Linked DNA regions of Homo sapiens. The protein of the gene in region 1 purifies or fractionates together with the protein of each later gene. This does not show direct contact. Each region holds a gene or a part of one and is shown in the gene's direction. Other genes may lie near its edges.

Region 1 (3,833 bases):
AAGAATTTATCACAAATGCACCAGGGCTGTGTTTATACAAGGAAAAGCAACTCTGATACTCAACATATGTAGGAGGGGAACATCTTAACAGGCCCAAGGATCCACACTGAAAGCTTTTCTCCCAAATGCTTTTCTCATTAGCAAGTAAAAAAATACAACAGTTGTTTATACAACAGAGCCAACCAAGTGACTTCGGGGGCTCAGCAGTGAGTTACAGCTTAGTCTAGACCACACTTAATTTAGTCCGAACTTGGTCTAGACCATACTCAAGGGTCCTATCCGGCAGGAAGCAGCCCAGCCCTCAAAGTCATGACCTATGGATGTTATTCCACACAAAACCATCCAATGCAGGGCAAAGGCCAGTTTGCTCGAGACTGAACAAATTCCTGCTCTCTATAAGCTCCCGCCCCAAGCCTCAGTGAGCTCCTCGGGGAGTAGAGAGCATGGTCAGAAAAGCAACAACCACAAATGCAGCTGCAGGCCACCACCAAAGTAGATCCCAGAACAGGGACGCCCGCCTAAGACAGAGGGACCACACATACGACGCACAGGCTAGCATCAGAATACTACTGGGAAAGAAATAATTCCATCTTTTTTCAATCTGTCAGCTTCAAACAGCCGCAAAACTCAATAAACATGTCAAGATGCTCCACATAAGATCCAAAACCTCTCTTAGATCTGGAACCAAATGCAAGGTTACTGGCTGGGGAGCCACCGATCCAGATTCATTAAGACCTTCTGACACCCTGCGAGAAGTCACTGTTACTGTCCTAAGTCGAAAACTTTGCAACAGCCAAAGTTACTACAACGGCGACCCTTTTATCACCAAAGACATGGTCTGTGCAGGAGATGCCAAAGGCCAGAAGGATTCCTGTAAGGTAAGAATCTCTCTTTCAAACAGGCATCTTGGAGCGCTGTACAGTAGCCAAGCCTCTATTGCTCACTGACACTGAGGAGGAGGGAGGGGCATGGAGAATACAAAACCACAATTCTAAACACTTTCTCTTCATTCCTGCACAGCATTCTCTATTCTTTTTCATCTACCAATGTGGATGGATTGTAAAAACTTCCCCAATACTTTATAAGCACCCACTAAATGTTTGTTAATCAGGATAATAGACCATATCTGACAACTTTTACAGGCTTCCTATGAGAGGTGTTATCCTCCTTACAAAGTCTACCAACCCTGAAGTCACTAGTGGTGATTAGAAGATAACTTATTTAAAGAACCACCTTGCAGATTAATCAATAAGGAGGCCTTAAAGACTCAAATGCAAAAAGCTCAAATATACAGTATGTGTTTCATAAGTAATGCTGACTGACTGTCTTCGTCTGTTTGGGCTGCTACCACAAAATACCATAAACTCGGTGGCTTATAAATAACAGAACTTTATTCTGTTCAAGATCAAGATCAAGGCACCAGCACATTTGGTGTCTGGGGAGGGCCTACTTTCTGGTTCATAAACAGCTTCTTTTCACTCTAATCTCACATGGTAGATGGGGTGAGGGGTCTCTCTTAGGCCTCTTTAATAAGGGAACTAATCTCATTCATGAAGCCTTCACCTCCATGACCTAATCACTTCCCAAAATCACCACCTCCTAATACTCTCACCTTGGGAGTGAGGATTGCAACATATGAATTCGGAGGAATCAGACTTTCAGACCATACCACTGACTAACAAAAAGGAACAAAAGGCCGGGCATGGTGGCTCACACCTGTAATCCCAGCACTTTGGGAGGCCAAGGTGGATGGATCTGTTGAACTCAGGAGTTTGAGACCAGCCTGGGCGATATGGTGAAAACCCGTTTCTACAAAAAATACAAAAATTAGCCAGGTGTGGTGGCACACGCCTGTAGTCCCACCTACTCAGGAGGCTGAGGGGGGAGGATCACCTGAGCCCAGGAGGTTGAGGCTGAAGTGAGCCGAGATCTTGCCACTGCATTCCAGTCTGGGTGACAAAATGAGACCCTGTCTTAAAAGAAAAAAAGGAACAAGAGTCATTATGTTTTTCAAAATCATTTGTTTATTGAGATGGTAAGGAAAAAAATAGGTGTTCATGTTTGTATGAACTATACTAATATATAGCACAAATGAATTACTAATTTTTTAAAAATTAGAATACAGTATTCATCTCATACTATATTAAGTATAATTGGGGGAGAGGATATGATGACTTCAAATGTCTTGTGCATCTGCAGTACCCAAGACCATCACCCTCCTAAACATCGGTTATCATGGTTGACCAAAGTATAAGGCACTGCAGTTTGCAATGTGAACATTAGCAAAGAGAAAGGCTGGTCTTCAAATGTAGAAGCCAGCTCTTCATCAAAAGGCCATGCCATCCCCTCTATAGCTCTTTCCCTTCACTTGATAGAATTTAGTTACATGCTTTGCTGTTAGAGTGTCTTCAAAAATCATTTCATTCACTAAGTATTTACTAAGTATGGTACATATACATAACACTATGTCCAACCATGTGAGGATGCAAAAAATAAATAAATAACAGAGAACATATAATTCCTGCCATGAAGACATTTACTACAATACATTGCTCTTTTCTGCTAGCCTCAATAACAACTCGATTTTAGGTCTGTGAGCATCAAAATGAAATCTACAATTTTAAAAGATTATTTTATTTCAGTGGATTATTTAAAACTTTATCCATTCTTTAATAAATAGTCAATAGTCATTGATTCCCAGAGGAATGTAGACATAGATAGGGACAAAACAGAGATATAGACATGGACACTGAGACAGAGGCAGAGGCATAGTCATAGTCATAGATAGAGACATAAACAGAGAAGCAAGTAGGCAGAAACATAGTCCTTGACAGAGACAGGCACATGGACAACCTATAACGAGTAAGAGGCAGTGTCAGACACTCTTCTGGACATAAAGAAAGCAAAGACCCAGATGATAATCCCTTGAGCAATCAGCAGTTGGTGGTTAAAAAACAAAAATATCCCAACAGCTTCTTACCACGTATTTGCCCTTTTTCTTCCTTCCAGGGTGACTCAGGGGGCCCCTTGATCTGTAAAGGTGTCTTCCACGCTATAGTCTCTGGAGGTCATGAATGTGGTGTTGCCACAAAGCCTGGAATCTACACCCTGTTAACCAAGAAATACCAGACTTGGATCAAAAGCAACCTTGTCCCGCCTCATACAAATTAAGTTACAAATAATTTTATTGGATGCACTTGCTTCTTTTTTCCTAATATGCTCGCAGGTTAGAGTTGGGTGTAAGTAAAGCAGAGCACATATGGGGTCCATTTTTGCACTTGTAAGTCATTTTATTAAGGAATCAAGTTCTTTTTCACTTGTATCACTGATGTATTTCTACCATGCTGGTTTTATTCTAAATAAAATTTAGAAGACTCTCTGTTTGTCTTTTATCACATGAAGTAATATCTGCCCCCATTGCACCCACACTCGCCAAAGGGCAATAAGGTCACTGAATAAAACAGTAATGGTACCACCTTCAACTAGGTGTAACTTCTGCTGGATCATCCTAAGTTGTTGGGTTGTTTTCTTTTCATTGTTGTGATAACATTGAACATGAGATAGGCCCTTGCAACAAATGTTTAAGGGTATGATACATTATTGTTAACTATAGGCATGATCTTGCAGTGCAGATCTCTAGAACTGCTTCATCTCATATAAATGAAACTTTATGCCAGTTGAATAGCAGCTCTCTATTTCCCCACCACCCCCATCCTCTGGCAACCCCATTCTACTCTAAGCTTCTATGAGTTTGTATTTTTTAAATATAAATCATAAATATAAATATCCTAATTCAAGCAAGCAGCTTATACAAATATTTGGACAGTATTTCT
Region 2 (3,833 bases), on another chromosome or scaffold:
CATTCAACAAGGATTTTGAAGATCAGGCCAACGAGGGTGGGATGTGTCTCCCTGCAATGAGCCTTCGCTCCTCCTCTTCCCTTGCAGGGATGCCCTCCGCAGCTGAAATGCCACCCCTCCAGGAAGATTTCTCTGACTCTCCCCCAACCCTTTGAGCTGTTTGTGCCTCTTCTCAGTTCTTGTCTCACCAGATTTGTACCTTTCTCGTAATCTGGACCACAGATGCCTGAGCGTCCTGGCACCCATCTCACTAAATGGCAACCATGTCCTTCCCATTGATCAAACCAGAAGCCTTGCAGACCCCTCACCTTTTCCACTCTTCCCTCCTATCCCACATGCAAACCATCATTAAGCCCTGGCAGCTCAACTTCAGAATATATCCCAAATCTGCCACTCCTCACGGTCTCCTCTCCAAATACCCAACCCAAGCACCATCAGTTCAAGCCTGGGTTATTAGAGTAGCCTTCAAACTGATCGTTCTGCTTCCACTTTCACCCTATCCTATTTCCCACCCCGATTGATCTACTTAAAATATAAATCAGATCATGACACCCGCCCAAAACCTTCCTGTGGTAGACAAATAGATTGACAAAACAGGATAGAGTCCAGAAATAGATCTACATACACAGAGTTCATTGATTTTTGCCAAAGACCCCCAAGGCGGTTCAATCAGGAAAGAGAAGTTCTCTTAAAAAATGACCCTGAAACAAATGAATAGGCATAAGGAAAAATTAAACCTGGACCCCTGCCTCGCACACACACAAAAATTAATTTGAAATGAATCATAGATTTAAAAGTAGAAGTCAGCATCATGAAGCCTCTAGAACAAAACATAGCCTTTGTGATATTTGTGTAACAAAGGTTTCTTAAAGTGGTCACAAAATAAAAACTAAATAAAAACTAAATGATAAATTGAATTTGGTAAATTGGACTTAATCAAAAATTAAATCTTCTGCTCTTACAAAGATATCCTTGAGAAAAAAGAAAAGCAAACTATAGAATGAGAGAAAATACTCTCAATACATATATCTGACAAAGCATTTGTAACCAGAATATATAAAGAACTATGACAAATCAATAATGAAAGACTACCCAATTTTTTAAAAAAGAAAATATACAAATGGCTAATAAACATGTAAAAACCTACACTACATTATTAGTTATTAGAGAAATGAAGATTCCAACCTCCATGAGATACCATTTCACATCTATTAGAGTGGCTAAAATTTTAAAAACTGACAATACCAGATGTTGACAAGAAGGTAGAACAATCAGAATTCTCATGCTTTGCTGACTGCAGAATAAAATGGTACTACTACTTTGAAAAACTGGCAGTTTCTTACAAAGATAAAAATATTTCTGTTCTTATGACCCAACGATTTCACTCCTAGGTATTTACCCAAGAGAAATGAAAACATATGTCCACAGCAGCTTTATTCATGGCAACAGCAAAAACAACAGAACTGTAAATAATCTAAATGTCCATAATTAGAAAAATGAATAAACGTATTTGTAGTATATTCATATAACAAAATACTTTTTATCAATACAAATGAATGAACTCATGATACCTGCATTAGCATGGATGGAGCTCAAAAACATGTTGATCAGGCTGGGCACGGTGGCTTACACTTGCAATCTCAGAACTTTGGGAGGCCGAGGCAGGTGGATCACTTGCAGCCGGGAGTTTGAGACCAGCCTGGCCAACATGGTGAAACCTCGGCTCTACTGAAAATACAAAAATTAGCTGGGTATGGTAGCTCATGCCTGTAGGCCCAACTACTTGGGAGGCTGAGGCAGGAGAATCCCTTGAACCTGGGAGGTGGAGGTTGCAGTGAGCTGAGATTGCGCCACTGCACTCCAGCCTAGGCAATAGAGTAAGACTCCATTTCAAAAAAAAAAAAAAATGTTGATCAAAAGAAGCCAGATGACAGAGTACTCACTGTGTGAGTCCATTTATTTGAAATTCTAGAACAAAAAATAAATATCCATTGATAGAAATGGGAACAGTGTTGGCCTATGAAGAATGGAAATTGACTGGAAGGAGGCCTCTGCTCGAGTCCTCTACTCAGAGGGTCCTTCCTTGAACACTCTATCTAAAGCAGCCTCTTCCTCCTGGTTCCTTCCACCCCTTCTCTTGCTTTGTTTTCTTACATAACTCATTTCCACCTACAAGTATATTCTATATTTGCTTATTGTCTGAATCGCCCACAAGGTAGGAATTGAGATTTGGTTTTAGATGTAATGGCAGTCAGGTGAACTGGCTTGAACAATTCATTCTTCATATATGTTTTAACTGTGATAAAATTTACATATTGGGAAATGCAGGTCCTTCAGTGCACAATTTGACAGATTTTAATAAATGTGAATGCTGGTGTAACCACCACCTCAACCAAACTCTGCGCATTCCCATCACCCACTAGAATTTAAATGGCACATGGGCAGGGTCTTCTTTATCCGCCTAGTTCACAGAGTACAGGGCTCAGAACAACCCCAACATAGTTCTTAATAAACAACTGTTTAATAGTTAATTAATTAATGCTTTTCTAGGTTGTTGAGAAGATTAAGTAAGGCAGTGCATACAAAGTGCTTATAGTGACAGGCAGAGGAAATATTCAGGAAATATAAGCTACTGTTATTATTCATCATAGTATCCCCAACAGTGACCGGGAATAGTGACCACCACAAATTAGGTGTACAATAAAGAATTAGATGGATAGAGCAAATGAAGAAATGGATGGGTAAGCAAATTGGTAGGTTTATGGGTAGGCACTTGGATGGATTGTTGGATGTTTGAATAGATGAATGAATAAAATGAATGCTTGGATGGATGGAAGGATGGATGGATGGATGGATGGATGGATGGATGGATGGATGTTTTGATGGATGGATGGATATTTGGATGGATGTTTGGAGGGATGGATGAATGGGTGGATGTTTGGATGGATGGATAGATGGATGGATGGATGGATGGATGTTTGGATGGGTGGATGGAGGGATGGATGGATGAGTGTTTAGATGGGTGGATGGAGGGATGGATGGATGAGTGTTTAGATGGATGAATGGATGGATGGATGAATGGATGTTTGGATAGATGTTTGGAGGGATGGATGAATAGATGGATGTTTGGAAGGATGGATATTTGGATGGATGGATGGATGGATGGATGGATGGATGGATGGATGGGTGGATGGATGGATGGATGGATGGATGAGTGGGTGAATGGGTGAGTGATTGTCTTAGAAAGCATCCAGAATTCCTAGGGGAAACTTAGAGGAGCTTTTCCTTGAGATTCCACAGTACTATCCTTGCATCAGGATGCTCAGGACAGGTAAGGAAGGCAACTTATATGTCCAGGATCTTTTTCATTCCCTGAGCAGATAGACATCACTTTACATTTCACATTGCAGTCTTATCTCCCTCCTCCATTGTCATTTTCAGAGTATTTCCTCAAGCAGGGTGGTAGCCTATTCTCCCCATTTACAAGTTAGAAAACTGAAGCCCAACAAGTTGAAATGACTCATCCAAGTCATGCAGCCAGAAAGTAGAGGGCTAGGTGTCAATCCTGGGTCTCTGGACTCCTGCTCTTTCTCTACGTCCAGGGCTTGAGAGGCAGGAAAGTCCGGAGACTAAGAGCATTCCTTTCGGGCACTCTCAGCCATTGTGGTCTAGAAGCAGGCAAGGGGGTGTAGGTTTTGATTGTCTGGAGCTGCTAATGGGCCAGGCTCGGAGTGTCAGGAGGCTGAGGGTGGAAGGAGTGAGGAGGCTGACAGCAGCAGGCTTGGCTTCCAGAAGCAACATCTCAACACAGCAGTAAAAGAGGGAGTCAGGGA

Evidence for each region.
Region 2: the proteins of GZMK (region 1) and IGSF21 purify together in Homo sapiens (affinity purification with mass spectrometry; one large-scale study listed by BioGRID and IntAct). This does not show direct contact.

Annotation. Positions count from the first base shown.
Region 1 is NC_000005.10:55,030,756-55,034,588, forward strand, and holds the end of GZMK (granzyme K precursor), read left to right. Parts: intron 1-608; coding exon 609-878; intron 879-3,009; coding exon 3,010-3,171; 3' UTR 3,172-3,815; downstream 3,816-3,833.
Region 2 is NC_000001.11:18,369,680-18,373,512, forward strand, and holds part of IGSF21 (immunoglobulin superfamily member 21 precursor), read left to right. Parts: intron 1-3,833. UniProt on the Homo sapiens protein: Involved in synaptic inhibition in the brain. Selectively regulates inhibitory presynaptic differentiation through interacting with presynaptic NRXN2.